4 linked regions of the Homo sapiens genome follow. The protein of the gene in region 2 purifies or fractionates together with the protein of the main gene of each other region. This does not show direct contact. Each region holds a gene or a part of one and is shown on either strand. Other genes may lie near its edges.

Region 1 (3,500 bases), on a different chromosome or scaffold from region 2:
GAGCCTGATTTGCCTTTACTTCCTTCCGGAATCTAGCAGCGGGAAGGAACAGGGAGAAAAGCAGTTTCTTCAGCTGAGCACACAGAGCTACATTAGTGGACTGAAAAATGACCAGAAGCCTGAATATAGACGAAACCTTGTATTGCTTGGGGCAAAAACAGCCCTAAGCAATACAACTTCATCCAGTGAGGAGAAGGTTAAATTTTGGTTAATATTAGTTAATGAGTTAGAATTGTACATATTTGAAACAAACTTTCTAGTAATAGTCAAAATTTAAAGTTCCCTGGAAAATTCACTTACATGGCTTATCTCATTTGTGACACTAGATGAAGGGGAGTATAGACATGAGATCATACAGGGAGAAGCATGCAGGGAGAGAAGCTTCCAGGGGAAGGCTGTGCTGGAATCATTTCTGTAACTTCTCAGCAGTACAGTTAGGTTCGTGGTTGGCTCCTGTGACCTCCCTGCTTCCCTCCTGGGCACCTCATGTCTTGGACTCTTCTTCCCTCCCTTATGACTAATTTCTCTTGCCTCTTTTCTTCTGTCTTTTTCATTCACTTTCTCTCTCTGTTTCATACTTCATTCCTTATACTTTCCTGTGGCCATGTCCTAACGGTGTAATGTGTAGCTAAAGAGAACTCACTTCCAGTTTAAAAATGTTCTCATGTCTTTCTAGATGTATATATCTATGTTAGTTTTATTGCCTTGGTTAAAGTGACTGGGTTTTTCTTATTCATTTTAATTCAATGAGGAGAAATGAGACATGGAAAATGGTTTTACCCTGGAAAACAGGTTTTTCTTTCCTTTTTTTTTTTTTTTGAGATAGTGTTTCACTCTGTTACTCAGGCTTCAGTGCTGTGGCATGATCACGGCTCACGGTAACCCCAATCTCCTGAGCTCAGGAGAGCCTTGCACCTCAGCCTCTTGAGCAGCTGGGACTTCAGGTGCTCACCACCATGCTTGGCTGATTTTTTAAAAATTTTTTGTAGAGATGGGAATCTCCTTTTGTTGCCCAGGCTGATCTTGAACTACTGTCCTCAAGTAATCCTCCCACCTTGGCCTCCCAAAGTGTTGGGATTACAGGCATGAGCCACTGCACCTGGCCGTAAAATCTTTTTTTTTTTTTTAGACGGAGTCTTGCTCTGTCGCCAGGCTGGAGTGCAGTGGCGCGATCTCGGCTCACTGCAAGCTCTGCCTGCTGGGTTCAAGTGATTCTCATGCCTCAGCCTCCCGAGTAGCTGGGATTACAGGCACGCAGCACCACACCCAGCTAATTTTTGCATTTTTAGTAGAGACGGGGTTTCACCATGTTGGGCAGGATGGTCTCAATCTCCTGACCTCGTGATCCGCCCACCTTGGCCTCCCAAAGTGCTGGGATTACAGGCATGAGCCACCACACCCAGCCCATAAAATCATTTTTTGTACACTGCCAGATCATCATAGGTTTTAGAAATATAACTAAAATGTAAGCAAAAGACTAATTTCTCAGTGGCCATAATCTGTCATTTTTACTAAATCATCAACTTTTCTAATTGGTAATAAATGGTAAAATGATATTTTTTCTCTTTTACTCAAATTCTTGGCATTTACTTCATATGGTGAGAGCTTAGCCTGAATGGGACTTTATCGTGCAATAACTTAAGAAAATTTGTCCTTTTTGAAAAAAAAAAAATCAGCTTATGATTGTTTTTTCTTTTACTAAAAGGCAGCTGGTCTTCATCCAACTGCTGAGCAGATTGAAATGTTTGCCTACCATCTCCCTGATGCAACACTGTCCAATCTCATTGTAAGTGGAAACTCCCTTTCACATCTCCCCTAAAAATGTTGATATGTCAGGTGATTACTGGTTAACCTCATGAGCATGAATGGATAGTCTGCCTTTGAGAAGTTGCTATTTATAAAATTTATTTTACAAGTGAAAATTTTTTCTCAAAATCTTTTGGGACTTTAGCCCTGAGGAATTTCCTCTCAGTATTTCAGGTGGGGAAGGATATGAGGGAGTGATTAAAGCAAGCCTTTATGGAAGTTTGTTCTGGATTAAAGAGATTGTCTTTTATAGACTTGAGTATGTTATTCATTGTTCATTTTAATTCACTTAGGCAGTCCAGTAATTTCTGTCTTTTTTTCCCCAAGGATATTTTTGTAGACTTTTCACAAGTTGATGGGCAGTATTTTGTCTGCAATATGGATGATTTTAAATTTTCTGCAGAGTTGATCCAGCATATTCCACTAAGTCTGCGAGTGAGGTATGTTTTCTGCACAGCTCCTATCAACAAGAAGCAGCCTTTTGTGTGTTCTTCACTGTTACAGGTAAGCCTTTATCTTTAAGCTATTTTGAGTTCCTTCTGGTTGATGCAGGTTCCCCAAACAGTACTTTGTTATTCAAAATAAAATAATTACAAGAGTATTCAGTAATATGAGAGACTTTGTAAAAACTTAAATAGGGGTTAATAGTAGCAACAGTGTTCAGTTTTCTTAAGTGTAAAGCACTGAGCCAGGGGTTACTGTCTTGTATGAGCACCATGCCAGGGTTCTAGCCTCTTTTAACTCATTTGGGTAGGGATGCAAATCTCTGACTTCTGAGAAGCACAGGATTCCTGGGGGCCAGGAAGGACAGTGGACTATGGAGAACCATAAATCTCTACCAAGGCCGGGTGCAGTGGCTCACGCCTGTAATCCCAGCACTTTGGGAGGCCGAGGCGGGTGGATCACTTGAGGTCAGGAATTCGAGACCAGCCTGGCCAAGCTGGTGAAACCCTGTCTCTACTAAAAATACAAAAATTATCCGGGCATGGTGGTGGGCACCTGTAATCCCAGCTACTCGGGAGGCTGAGGCAGGAGAATCACTTAAACCAAGGAGGCAGAGGTTGCAGTGAGCCAAGATCGCACCATTGCACTCCAGCCTGGGTGACAGAGCGAGACTCTGTCTCAAAAAAAAAAAAAACAAAACTCTACCAAGGTTTATCATAACAATACTTTTATTTAATTTAATTTTATTTATTTTATATTTGAGGCAGGGTCTTGCTCTGTTGCCCAGGCTGGAGTGCAATGGTGCAATCACAGCTCACTGCAACCTCAACCTCCCTGGCTCAAGTGATCCTGCCACCTCAGCCTCCCAAGTAGCTGGGACTACAGGCATGTGCCACCATGCCCAGCTAATTTTTGCATTTTTTGTAGAGACAGATCTCTCTATGTTACCCAGGCTGGTCTCGAGCTCCTGGAGGCAAGTGATCATCCCACCTCAGCCTCCCAAAGTGCTGGGATTACAGGCATGAGCCACCTAGTCCAGCCTAATATTTTAATTATTAAAAATGTTTTTGAAAGGATCCAAATGTCCAACAAGAGGGAAAAGGTTAACTACATTATGGCATATCCACTTGATTGGATATTAGGAAGACATTGCAATGATAATTATGATTATAATGAAGAAATCTACATAAGTGGTTACACTATAACAGTAAGTGAGGGAAGCGGTTCAGAACTGTATGTACCTTATAAAC
Region 2 (5,075 bases):
AGCTGTGCCCTACTGGTTGCTTATTTGTGTACTACTGTGATCCTGGGAGTGCTGAGTAGCCGTCTTTAGGTTGGGGATGCCCTGGACCCTCAGAGAGACTCAAGGCTTGACTCCCATGCCTCCTGCTGCCTCTGCTCATATCCCTACTGGGCACTGATTCTGAGTCCCCGTCCACAGCACTGCCTGCAGCCCCCTTCAACATCACCGTGACAAAGCTTTCCAGCAGCAACGCTAGTGTGGCCTGGATGCCAGGTGCTGATGGCCGAGCTCTGCTACAGTCCTGTACAGTTCAGGTAGGCTCTCCGGGCCGGGCCATGCTCGTTCTGGCTGCATGGCCAGCACTTTGTTGACAGGGATATCACACTCACTAGCCAGCTCCTGGGGGCTTGGTCTGCAGCTCTTTTCAGGCTCTGCTCCTTAGCAGGAAGAACACAGGCCACTGTCTCTTATCATGGGGTGCTCTGGCAACTAAGTGACTTTGCAGATTGGCTCAAACTCATGCATTCATAAGGTTGGAAAGCAGATCACTAGAACAGATTTGGGGTACCTGGAAGGTTTTTCTTTCTTTCTTTTTTTTTTTGAGACAGGGTCTCACTGTTGGCCAGGCTGGAGTGCAGTGGTGCCATCTCGGCTCACTGCAACCTCCACCTCCTGGGTTCAAGTGATTCTCCTGCCTCAGCCTCCCCAGCAGCTAGGATTAGGATTACAGTCATGCACCACCACGCCCAGCTAACTTTTTTTTTTTTTTTTTGTATTTTTAGTAGAGACTAGTAGTTCACCATATTAGCCAGCCTGATCTCAAACTCCTGACTTCAAGTGATCTACCTGCCTCAGCCTCCCAAAGTGCTGGTATTACAGGCATGAACCAGCACACCCAGACGAGTTTTTCTTACTTAGGTGAAAGCTCAAACCTTTGCTGATACTCACCCTATCATGCTCCACCTTACCCCCCAACCCCCACTCAAGCCAAAGAGAACAAGATGACCAGAAGGGGCCCTAAGCCTTGGAGAGTGGAAAAACTGTGTAAGGTGATACTAAAAACAAGAGGCAATGCAGGCTTGCTCATTTTCATCCGTTTACTCAAAGGCCATTTAATGAGTACCTTTCAAAACTGTTCTGGGCAGTTCCCCTGGGCAGGAGGGGCCCCTGCTCTGGGCTCCACCATTTAGAGAACCCTACTGAGGTTGGGCACAGTGGCTTATGCCTGTAATCCCAGCACTTTGGGAGGTGGAGACGGGAGGATTGCTTGAGCCTGGGGGTTCAAGACCAGCCTGGGCAACATGGCAAAACCCTTTCTCTACAAAAAATACAAAAATTATCCAGGCACAGTGGCATGCGCCTGTACTTCTAACTATTCAGGAGGCTAGAGTGGGAGGATGACTTGAGCCTGAGAAGTCAAGCCTGCGGTGAGCCGAGATCATGCCACTGCACTCCAGCCTGAGTGAGTGACAGGGCAAGATCCTGTCTCTATTAAAAAAAAAAAAAAAAAAAAAAAAAAAAAGAGGATCCTACTCTGGCCCTCCTTTGGCCACACCCCTTTCCCCGGGGCAAAGAGCCTACAGGGCCAAGAGGATATGCCCATCCAGATGGCAAGGACCCCCTCACTGCCACACTATACTATAGCTATTCAGGATCTCTTGCCCTAATGGTTCTGAGTCTGCTTCTGGGGTCTGTGTGGGCCTTTTCCCTGTTCCATCTTCCCAAGGATGGACCGCAGTGTGATATGACCACCTCTAAGCCCAAGGGGCAGCCATTCGTGAGGGGGATGGGAATGGAGCTTGGATATGCAGTCAGCATTGTCCACGCCTGTGCACATGAGGCCCCTCATGGTGCAGACCTTGGCTTCAGGCCAGCTCTTCCAGTGCCTCCTCATTCTGACTCGGGACTCCAGGGATTTGGAGAGTTACAAATGCAAACCTGATCTCCCAGGTTGTTTTGAAGGTTTATTGGTCAAAATATTAAGAGAGAAACTATTTAATAGTTTGTTAGCTGATTTATAATGTTTAAATATTTAGACATATAGTACGTGGATCTCTTTGTACTCTTGCCCTGGGCCCCCAAAATGTAAGATGAAGGGCTGGTTCATAGTGCCCTAGGCTCCCAGTTTTCTCTGAGCTTCAGAAGCTCTAGAACTTTGGAGTGGCATGTAAACAGGCACAGTAAGTGGTAAGTATACCCTAAGAGTTTCGTACCAAGTACAAAAGGACAAGAGTTTTCTGGAGTGGTTGAGAAAGGCTTTCACCAAGAAAGTGATATTTGCACTGAGTCTTAAAGGATGAGTAGGCCTTTGCTAGGAAGAGCAGGTCATTCCAAGTGAAAGGAACAGCATTTGCAAAGGTATGAAGATGTGGAACCCTGTGTATTATTGGGGTGGGGGCAGATGGGAGGGCGTGGGTTGCAAGTGTTTGCTGATAGAGGAAGCATTCATTCAAGCACCCATAACTATACCCATCCCATCTTCCATCTCTCACAGGCTCTCCCCTACATCATTAGTTTTCTGCTTTTCTGTAGGTGACACAGGCCCCAGGAGGCTGGGAAGTCCTGGCTGTTGTGGTCCCTGTGCCCCCCTTTACCTGCCTGCTCCGGGACCTGGTGCCTGCCACCAACTACAGCCTCAGGGTGCGCTGTGCCAATGCCTTGGGGCCCTCTCCCTATGCTGACTGGGTGCCCTTTCAGACCAAGGGTCTAGGTAAGGGATGCATAGAGCAGAGCGGGTGGGCAGGGCTGGAGCCGGGAAGGGGGCCGTGTTGGCTGGAGTTCTGAATGGTGCTGGTAGAGATGGAGGTTCAGGCATCATTCGGCAAACATTTACTGCATATAACTACATACCACCTTGTAAGTAGTTCTTGTAGGTGGAACAGATAAGCAAACTGGAAAAGATCAGATAATGTGGTTGATAAAGAGTGTCCCCAGGTGGTTAAGGAAACCCCCCCTAAAAAGGTCTGAAGGATAAAGATCTGAAGGATCTGGGATCTGAACGATAAAGAAGAAGCCATGTAAATATCTGGGGGAAAATCACTGCCGGAAGAAGGCACAGCAAGTGCAAAGACCCTATGACAGGAACTTGCTTGGCAATTGCAAAGAGGCTGGCATAGCTGTGAGAGGGGAGTGGTAAGGGGTGAGGCAGAAAGGCAGTAACCATGGTGATGAAGAGCAACACTGCCGAGCTGGGGTGCTGCCTGTCCTGCCCATTGCTTACCCCTCCCCCAGCACAGTGGGTGAGAGCAGTCAGAGCTGGGAGGTGAACCCTTCCCCAGTTTGTGCCTCTCAGAGCTGTTTAGTTCTTGGGAGTTGATTCCAAAGGTCTGCATGGAATTATGATGGTGGGAAGGGCAGGGGTCTTAGCAATCTTCTCTCTTTGGCTGCAGCCCCAGCCAGCGCTCCCCAAAACCTCCATGCCATCCGCACAGATTCAGGCCTCATCTTGGAGTGGGAAGAAGTGATCCCCGAGGCCCCTTTGGAAGGCCCCCTGGGACCCTACAAACTGTCCTGGGTTCAAGACAATGGAACCCAGGTAAGACAGAACCCTCCCCTCTCTCCACTCTCCTGGAGTATAAGCCTTCAGGGTTCTAAGGCCTTTAAGAATTTCAAAATGATTGTCTTTGGTGGGCCTGGGTCTCCCGCAGCCCCAGGGAATCCTTTCCTCCTCACCCTCCTCTGCAAGCTCCACTTCTCAAAGGATTATGTCTCCTGTTAGGGTTGCATCCTGTGTGCACTTTGTAAATAAAGCAGGAAGCACATTCCTGCTTGAGCTGGGGGAGGGCACAGATAAGGCTTTGTCCCCAGCTCAGTTCGCTCCCATCCCCCACCTGTGCATTCCGGGACTGAGCCTTGTTTGTGTTCTGGAGAGGCCCCTGCAGCCGGGAACAGGAATGTGATTACTCCCAGAAGGTTGTGTTCCTGCAGCCCCTGAACCCACAGTGCCCCTATACTCCCATGTTCCCAGCTGGACCTTTTTCTGTCCTCAGGCCCCAGCTGGAGGCCTTCTCCCCAGGCTCACTATGGGGTGGGGGCTTTTCCTGGCTGCAGGATGAGCTGACAGTGGAGGGGACCAGGGCCAATTTGACAGGCTGGGATCCCCAAAAGGACCTGATCGTACGTGTGTGCGTCTCCAATGCAGTTGGCTGTGGACCCTGGAGTCAGCCACTGGTGGTCTCTTCTCATGACCGTGCAGGTGAGGCTTGTAGGTGGAGAGGGGCAGAGGCTCAGGGGATCAAGGTTTTCAAGGGCAACCTAGACTGATGGGAGGAGCCTAGTAGCATCTCCCCTCCTAGTAGACCCACAGACAGAGTGAAGAAGTTGAGGCCAGGGCTGTTTAAACTATCTTGGCTGGGCATGGTGGCTCATGCCTGTAATCCCAACATTTTGGGAGGTTGAGGGATCGCTTGAGGCCGGCAGTTTGAGACCAGCTCTGGCAACATAGCAAGACTCTGTCTCTACAAAAAAATTAAAAAAAAAAAAAAAAAACAATTAGCCTGGTGTAGTGACATATGCCTGTTAAGCCCAGCTGCTCCAGAGGCTGAGGCAGGAGGATTGCTTGAGCCCAGGTGTTTGAGGCTGCAGTGAGCTATGATTGCACCACTGCACTCCAGCCTGGGCAACAGAGTGAGTCTGTTGTCTCTAAAGAAACAAACAAATAAGGCCAGGAGTGGTGGTTCACACCTATAATCCCACAACTTTGGGAGGCTGAGGTGGAAGGATTGCTTGAGTCTAGGAGTTTGAGACCACCTTGGGCAGCAAAGTGAGACTTTACCAAAAAAATTTAAAAATTAGTCAGGTGTGATGTTGCACACCTGTAGTCCCAGCTACTTGGGAGGCTGAAGTGGAAGGATTGCTTGAGCCCAGGAGGTTGAGGCTGCAGTGAGCTGCAACTGTGCCCCTGCACTCTGGCCTGGGCAACAGAACAAGACTGTGTCTCAAACAAACTATATCTCATTCTCCTCTCTCTGCCCCAGAACTGGCATAGAAATCCATGGTCACCCTCTAGGTCACAACAGCCAGGGCCTGTCTCTGACCAGGTAGGAAGGACTCTTAGGCATTCCTCTGGAGCCCCTTTCCCTCAGGACCCTTATTGA
Region 3 (3,500 bases), on a different chromosome or scaffold from region 2:
GCCTCGGCCTCCCAAAGTGCTGGGATTACAGGCGTGAGCCACTGCGCCTGGCCCCACTTCATCTTCTTTCGTCATTCCACCAAATTTAGAATGCCCTCCTTTTCTCCACTTAGCCAAACTCTAATAATCCTTCCGAAATGCTCAAATCCTCCTTTTTCAAATCCTCAAGTAAAGCCTTAACTCACCAAACCCTAACATGACATGATCTCACCATTTTTGTAATAATAACATCAGTAGCTAACAATAAATACATACTATGAGCTAGGTATAGTTCTAAGGTCTTTATATGAACACTTAAATAATCATCTCAAAATTCTATAAAATAGGTCCTATTACTTCCCCATTTTACAGACTAAAAACAAAAACAAAACTAAAGAACAGAGATGTTAAGTAATTTGTCCAAATCAATCAGCATCAAGTTTAAAAGGTTAGTATTTTTGCTAATCCCTAGTCAGCTTCATTCATTAAAGAGCAAAAAACTAAATCAAGGAAATATGAAAACAGTGCCAGGTGTACAAAGCAACTAAAGACAGTCCTGAACACTGAATAACTTTTCTATGTGAGCCTTTAATCTGCCTGAAAGAAAAAAAACCTTCTAAGAAGCTATTTGCACTCTAATCTCAAAAGGAATGACCTTTATTCTCAAGAAGTCACCAATGTTGGGCCCCTCTTATTTAAATACTGTTTATGTGTTGGGGGGGTACCAAAGTTTTCCTCCTTGACAGAGGTAATGAATTAATTATTATCAGGAGAAACGCTTTAGAAGATAATATGCTGACGTGGTCATGTGAAATCTGAATAAGAAATCACAATTTACATAGATGAGCAAAGGACTGAGGGTTCAGAACAAGCACCCAAATGCTATCCTTCATTTTCATACAAAGGGGGAAAAATATATGTGTTTACTTCAAAATAATGTTCCAGAAATCATAATTTCAAAACCTTTAAATTATTAAAACACACATCAGAATTCTAATACAAATAAATTAGAAATGTAATTTTGAATAGTCTCTTGAGATAACTACTCTCTCTCAAAAATAGCTTTGTACCTAAATAAACTTTCAGTCTATCATTGAGTAGAGCTGAAAATAGGACAACGAATTACGGCATTTAACAATCTACATTAGATAACTCACAAATTCACTTATAGTAAACAGCTTATACTCTTTATAAGTTTTCAGTAAGTTTTAAGAGTTCCTATACTCCCAACAGAGACAAAGACAAAAGGTTTCCATTTGCCAAAGTAAATCAAACAAAACATTTCTGAAATCACTCCGTGATATAATACAAATTATTTATGAGGCAGAGGCTGAGTAAACGATTCTAGTAGGCATCCAGTCTGTCCAACATTAGAAGTCTCAAGATTACCAGAAGTACACTGGGCCACAGAGAAATAGGGAATTTTAGCCTAGGTAGGACCCCCAAATCAAAACAGAAGACTATGCATCTTAAAGGAATAACGGCCTCAGTTTGTTCATTGTGCTTCCACACTGCATATCCTTGTCACTAGTAGCTCCCTAATTATTCAAGTCATTCAACAAGCACTCATCAAGTACTATTTGTGCCAAGCACAGTGCTTGCGTATATAACAGACCAAAAAAAAAAAAATCTGACTTTGTGATCTTGTTAAGGAAACAGAACCCATAAAAATTCAAGGCTACAGTGCAAACTATAAAATGCTCTAAGATTCCTGTGCCCCTAAGTACTGGGTTTTTGCTGCTAACATCTTTACATATTATAACTATGGAATTACATGTAAAAGACAGGTAGAAAAGACAAGACTGGCGATCAGGAAGCTCTGATTCTTTCTGTGGCCTTGAGCAAGTCTCTGAACCTGTACAGGCCATTAGGAAAATGAAGAGTTTTGGATTAAATTATTGAGTCTTTCTAGTTCTAAAATTCTATGATTCTCAATCTGAAATTGTTTTTAATGGAGTCCTTCGGAATCTTAGGAGACATAGTAATCTAACTCTAGATGCTTCCAAGTGCTTTGAGTTTTAGAAAACCAAATAAGCATAAACATACCTTTCACTGACTATAAAGAAGCCTATGTCCCTTCAATCAGTTATTAAAAGCCTGTCTTCCACAAAAGTGTTAATTTTCATTTCAAACAACATGTCTGTAATGCATATGATTCAACTTTTAAAAATTAAAAGGAACACATTTTTACATATTCTAGATATGTACATACAGTCAATAGCACATTTCCTTTTCAACACTCTTCAGAGAATATTAAAATAACTTTGGACAAATAAGCACATAAAATATATACATATATACCATAGGGTCAGGCGCAGTGGCTCACACCTATAATCCCAGCACTTTGGGAGGCCGAGGCAGGCGGATCACCTGATATCAGGAGTTCAAGACCAGCTGACCAACATGGAGAAACCCTGTCTCAACTAAAAAAATACAAAATTAGTCAGGCACGGTAGCACATGCCTGTAATCCCAGCTACTCAGGAGGCTGAGACAGGAGAATCGTTTGAACCCGGGAGGCGGAAGTTGCAGTGAGCCGAGATCACGCCATTGCACTCCAGCCTGGGCAACAAGAGTGAAACATAGTCTCAAAAAAAAAAAAAGAAAAAAAAGAAAGAAAGAAAGAAAAAGAAAAAAAAATACCATATGGGTCAGATGGCCACCTGAATCCTAATTCAGTAGGTACAGTAAGAGATATCAGGGGCTTTGGGGAATGGGCATAAGGTATTGTCCCTTCTTAGGACAAGCTATATAATTTGTGCGACCCAGTACAGAAAAATACAGAGCCCCTTGTTAAAAAATTTAAAACTTCAAGATGTTACAGGATAGCATGAAAACAAGCTCTCACACAGTCTTTTGTGACTATTCAGGGCACGTGCCCATGAAGTCAACACTATTGCTCCTTAATGCTAACCCAAAGATCTCAGAAACAACTCATCATGGAGCCACACTCATTCGAGCATTTAAGCATTTAAGCACTTAAAAATCAATATAGAGAACCACTCAATACCTAGTGCTTTACTGTCTTATTTTTAGGATAAAGGGGAATAGAGCATATGGCGGCTCACAGTGCAGAAGACTATCAACTCAGAATGCCTAAGTTCAAATCCCACCTCTACCCCTACCAGATGTGTGTTATCTGCAGGTGACCTCACCTCTCTAGATTCACTTTCCTCATCTACAAAATGGGCATATTACTCACCTCGTAGGTTATTAATAGATGAGTTAATAAGTGTAAAATACTTAGAACAGTGCATAGCCAGCAGGGCATGGTGGCTCACACCTGTAATCCCAGCACTTTGGGAGGCCGAGGCAGGCAGATCACCTGAGGTCAGGAGTTCAAGACCAGCCTGGCCAACATGGTGAAACCTCGTCTCTACTAAAAATACACAAATTAGCCAGGCATGGTGGCAAGCACCTGTAATCACAGCTACTAGGGAGGCTGAGGCAGGAGAATTGCTTGAACCCAGGAGGCAGAGATTGCAGTGAGTGGACATTGTGCCACTGTACTCCAGCCTGGGT
Region 4 (4,300 bases), on a different chromosome or scaffold from region 2:
TCACAAATGTAAAAGCCTTTAGAAATTACTATACTCCCTTTTAATTTAAAATGATGAATATATCAAATATTACCAAGAGCAAAAACATCACAAGTTTTTCTGGTAAGGACTCACATTATTCACATTAACCCTAACAAATATAAAAATTTGGATGCCTATTTATCAACATAGGTTGCAGGCAGAGTTCATATACTCCAAAGAGGAAAAGTACAGATTTGAGGGGAGTTATTGCAAACGTTTCAACTATTTTAGTTCCTTTAGAAGAGGAGCCCTTTTAACAAAATGATGGATTAGCCGTGTCCAAGTATGTGCCATTTATAATGTATACTAGATAACATAATCTTAAAGTGGATTTGATAACAGTATTAACACATATTTTTAAAAGAATCTTATTATTTGTAACAGGCAGAAGACAACTGATCTCATGTAAATTAGTTTCCACCATCCCTAACAATTCTGGTTACATTAAGAGGAAAAAACACTTTCTGAGGCAATCAAAAACTTACAATAGTGAGTGAGATGCTCTGATATACTTCTTTTTTTAGTATCTCCCTGTCATTTTTTTCTTTGTGCGTGTGATTATTAGAAACTGTATTTACACTTCAGAGTGTGGTGGGGCACACGGTGGGAAGGAGATACAGGAAAAATGCAGAATGGGAAAATTCCCTCAACCTGTTGGGCTGCTTACTGGGAAGACTAAAATTTAACAAGTCTCAGATTCTTGTTAAAGACTTGCTTTGAAAAGCTGTCTCCTTAGAACAAACAATGTTTTAAAGATAAGTAATGGTTTAAAGATATCCATTAAAGTCTCTATAAAATGAAAAATGTTTCTAAAATGCCGTGTCATTAATATTATATTGAAAAGTTGAGAGTCGTATGAGTCAAAAGGAAGGAAATACATACATGAGATGGTCAAGAGAAGTGTTAATTTACCCATCCGGTCCGAAATTGCAAGTGTTTGTAAACTGACAATTGCAGATGAAATAGTCATTTTCTGTGCACTTTCCGGTATTTAAGTCTCCAGATACAGCATTTAACCTAAACTCAACGGAATTATTTTAAAAAAAAAAAATCTTAAACGAGTATGTGCTAGATCAAAGCTGAAGCTTCCTCCGTTTAGATTTACGCGCACCTTCTTCCTTGCCACAGCTCGACACCCCCACCCATGCCTTGCCGGGAAAGCTCCTGGTCTTCCATGGCCTCTGGGAGCCTCGAGCGAATGCGAGAAATTCTGAGAGCAGCACCCGTAGTTTCGTTCCCCATCCTCAATCCCTTCGCAAAGGAAACACAAAACCCCAAATGCATGCTTGTAAACTGAAAAGCTGAAAATGCTTTTAAATATATTACAAAAGAACACATTCTCTAAGCCGTTTCCATTTGTAGTCACTTCATAAGCTCAGATACTTTGTTGGAACAGTTCCCGGGCAAATGGATGCGCTTATTTGTCCAATTCCTTCTCCATAAACATATCGTAGATCATAACTACCAATCCCATATTCATACCTCGCTGACCTTAAGGGAGGACAACCCTTGGACCCACTCCCACTTGCCAGGGTGGAGGGCCAGGAAGCAGTAAGAATCCGCGAGACCAGACTCGGCTCACTGCCGACGCGGGTATAGACCTCGCTCCCATCGGACCCCATGCGCATCCATGGATGCGGGTAAGTCGCGGGTCCGCGGCTCCTTTCTGGGCGTGCGGAATGAAACTCTGTTGAAGCCTGAAGCTTCGCGTGTAACCGCGCCGCCAGAGTTCCGAACACTTCAAGTCTCCCGTGTTCTCAGAGCATCGTCTCTAACTTCCTCTCCTAGAGGATTTCGTCCTGGGCGGCAGGTTTCCGTAGACTCGAAACCCCAGGCTGTGCTCCGGCCGCGCAGTCCTCCCCGGAGCCGGAGTAAGTACGACGCAACCCCACCGCATCCATCATCCCCCACCACTGTCACCCTCTACCCGCCTCCACACCTCGGCAGCATCCCCAAAACACAACACGACCCCAACCCCCATTCTGGCCCGGTCTTCCCACACTTTCGCGCCCCCGGCACATCCCGCCCCCAGCTGGGTGGCTGGCGGGGGTGGACCGCTTGGGTGAGCTTCTGAATACCCTTTAGGGGAGATACCGAGAAACCCACTTCTCAGGGGCAGCCCCACCAAGGGACCCAGGGACACAGCCCCGGCTCCACTCACTAACGAACCAATCCGGGTCAACTGCGACCCAGAGCTGGGGAGGGGGCAGCCCCTAAATCCCTTTTCAAGTCTGTGCTTTGAGCTCTCAGGGATCCTCTCCACCCAAAGGCGCCCTCCAACCACCATCACCACCAGCTCCACCACCTGGGGAGAAGCGTGAATCCCAACCCCCTGCCCAACCCGCGACGGCGCCCGCCAGAGCGCAGCGAAGCCTGAGCGCGACTCAGAATTCCAACAATCGAACACCTTGTCTCAAAACAAAAAGCTCAGTCCAGAGTCGACCCGCAAACACACGTTTTCTCTCCTCACTCCTGCAGGCCCGAACTTGGGGCTGCTACCAGACCCGCAGCATTGATCTGAGCCGCGGTTGTCACGTTTCGGCCCGCTTTGTCCCCAGCTCCGTGCAGCGTCCAGGGCGGATCCACCCCCGTCCCCACCCCAGCCCTATCCGGCGAGATCTGGCTTACCACGAGGGTCAGCAGCAGATGCAGGCAGACGGCTCCGCGCACGGAGCGCCGGGGCCCAGCGGCGGCCATCGGGATGCCGGGCAGGGCCAGGAGAACGCGGGCGCCGGGAGGGTGCCGAGAGCGAGACCTGCCGAGGTGCAGGGCGCGGGAGGTGCTTTTCTCGCCGCTGCTTGTTTTTAAGTGTATTTGGCCTCTCTCAGGCTTGCCTGCCCGGGAGCAACTTCACTTCTGAAACCGGATTGGACCCAGAGGACGCGGAGAGGCCACTCCTTGTTATTTCTCAAGTTTTATCATCGCCGGCGCGGCTGAGGAGCTGCCCGAGCCTGCCCCTCTGCTCCCCAGCAGCCACCCGGGCGTTCGCGCTCGGGAAAGCGGTCTCTGGCGCACCCTCTGCCAGTTCTCCCACGCCCCTCGGCTGCCCCGCGGCGCTGCCGCCCCGCCCGGCCCGCAGAGAGGCCCTGGCAGCCCAGATCGTCCCAGGGCGGCCCCATCGCCGGCGCTGCGCGGTGCATCTCAATGCAGAACCCCAATCCGCCCGCAGGGATCCCTGCCTCGACACGGGCTCTGCTGGATGCCAGGAACACCCTTGTCATTGGATCAGCGGATCTCCCCTTCGACGTCTGAACAAATTCTGCCAATGTTTTCAGATTAAAGCAAAATACATGTACTGTATTCTCTCCGGATTTGACTAACATGACAAAATACACGACAGAAGGAATTTATCCCAGATGGCATGATAAACAGTTTTTGGCATGTCAGAAATTAAAACCAAATTTAAGAAATTCTAATCTAACCATTTTTACGCACCCAAAATATGAGTGATTACACTCAGCGCTCTATTAACTGTCAGTTTGGGGGACTCATATGAACCTTCTAAAAACGACTTTGTTCTTAGATGTGAATTATTGGTTTACTACTTACTGGTACCAAAATGAAATTTTTCAGGTGGTCAAAGGAATATCTACCACACAAAACCTTCTAAAACGAGGCTTACAGATTCTACATCATGCAACGACTATTTATCAGGGCCCGAAGTCGGCCAAGCTTTGTGTGAGGGCATGGAAGAAAGGAAATGCAGAAAATCTAGTTCCTGTCGGAAATAATTCAAAGTCAGAAAGGGACGAAAGACAATCATTCCTAGCCCAGTAGGCTACACTTTTTAATAGAGATGTCGTTTGTAACACCAGGGGGACATCCTCTTATTTCTCCCTAAACTGAATTTTAAGTTCCCCGAGTTCCCATCTACTGGATTCAGGAGGAAATCCCTCTCAGACATGAGATGCTACTCCTCGAAGTCCATTCAAAAGTTGCAAGGTCGGGAATTTCAGACAGCCAATTAATCATGAAAGGGTGTTATGACCTTCATTCATCTCACTCTGGCTCAAGTCTAATAGACTCCTCGTCGTCTAAGCCATGTATTCCCTGAAGTCTGGGGCTTCCCTGAAACTCATGAGGCTCAGCTTTAAGGGCTCAGACACTCTAAGTTGAGCTTCCCAGTGTGAATCTCCCAGGCACCCGTCAGTGGAGGTCTCTGTATGTAAGAGCTCTTCCAGTCTCAGAGAAAGTTCTCCAAACTTCTCTCCACTCCAGGGTTTTCACCTCCCATCCTCCACGTGCCTCCAGCATGACCTCAGAGAAAGCTTCTCAAAGT

What was found.
Region 1: the proteins of TYRO3 (region 2) and SUPV3L1 purify together in Homo sapiens (affinity purification with mass spectrometry; one large-scale study listed by BioGRID and IntAct). This does not show direct contact.
Region 3: the proteins of TYRO3 (region 2) and TM9SF3 purify together in Homo sapiens (affinity purification with mass spectrometry; one large-scale study listed by BioGRID and IntAct). This does not show direct contact.
Region 4: the proteins of TYRO3 (region 2) and DSC3 purify together in Homo sapiens (affinity purification with mass spectrometry; one large-scale study listed by BioGRID and IntAct). This does not show direct contact.

The regions. Positions count from the first base shown.
Region 1 is NC_000010.11:69,200,734-69,204,233, forward strand, and holds part of SUPV3L1 (ATP-dependent RNA helicase SUPV3L1, mitochondrial), read left to right. Parts: intron 1-1,705; coding exon 1,706-1,786; intron 1,787-2,133; coding exon 2,134-2,310; intron 2,311-3,500. UniProt on the Homo sapiens protein: Major helicase player in mitochondrial RNA metabolism. Component of the mitochondrial degradosome (mtEXO) complex, that degrades 3' overhang double-stranded RNA with a 3'-to-5' directionality in an ATP-dependent manner.
Region 2 is NC_000015.10:41,564,849-41,569,923, forward strand, and holds part of TYRO3 (tyrosine-protein kinase receptor TYRO3 isoform 1 precursor), read left to right. Parts: intron 1-177; coding exon 178-293; intron 294-2,511; coding exon 2,512-2,689; intron 2,690-3,368; coding exon 3,369-3,514; intron 3,515-4,029; coding exon 4,030-4,174; intron 4,175-5,075. UniProt on the Homo sapiens protein: Receptor tyrosine kinase that transduces signals from the extracellular matrix into the cytoplasm by binding to several ligands including TULP1 or GAS6. Regulates many physiological processes including cell survival, migration and differentiation.
Region 3 is NC_000010.11:96,580,513-96,584,012, forward strand, and holds part of TM9SF3 (transmembrane 9 superfamily member 3 precursor), read right to left. Parts: intron 1-3,500.
Region 4 is NC_000018.10:31,039,943-31,044,242, forward strand, and holds the start of DSC3 (desmocollin-3 isoform Dsc3a preproprotein), read right to left. Parts: upstream 2,801-4,300; 5' UTR 2,719-2,800; coding exon 2,650-2,718; exon of another isoform or gene 2,500-2,649; intron 1,893-2,499; exon of another isoform or gene 1,591-1,892; intron 1-1,590. UniProt on the Homo sapiens protein: A component of desmosome cell-cell junctions which are required for positive regulation of cellular adhesion. Required for cell-cell adhesion in the epidermis, as a result required for the maintenance of the dermal cohesion and the dermal barrier function.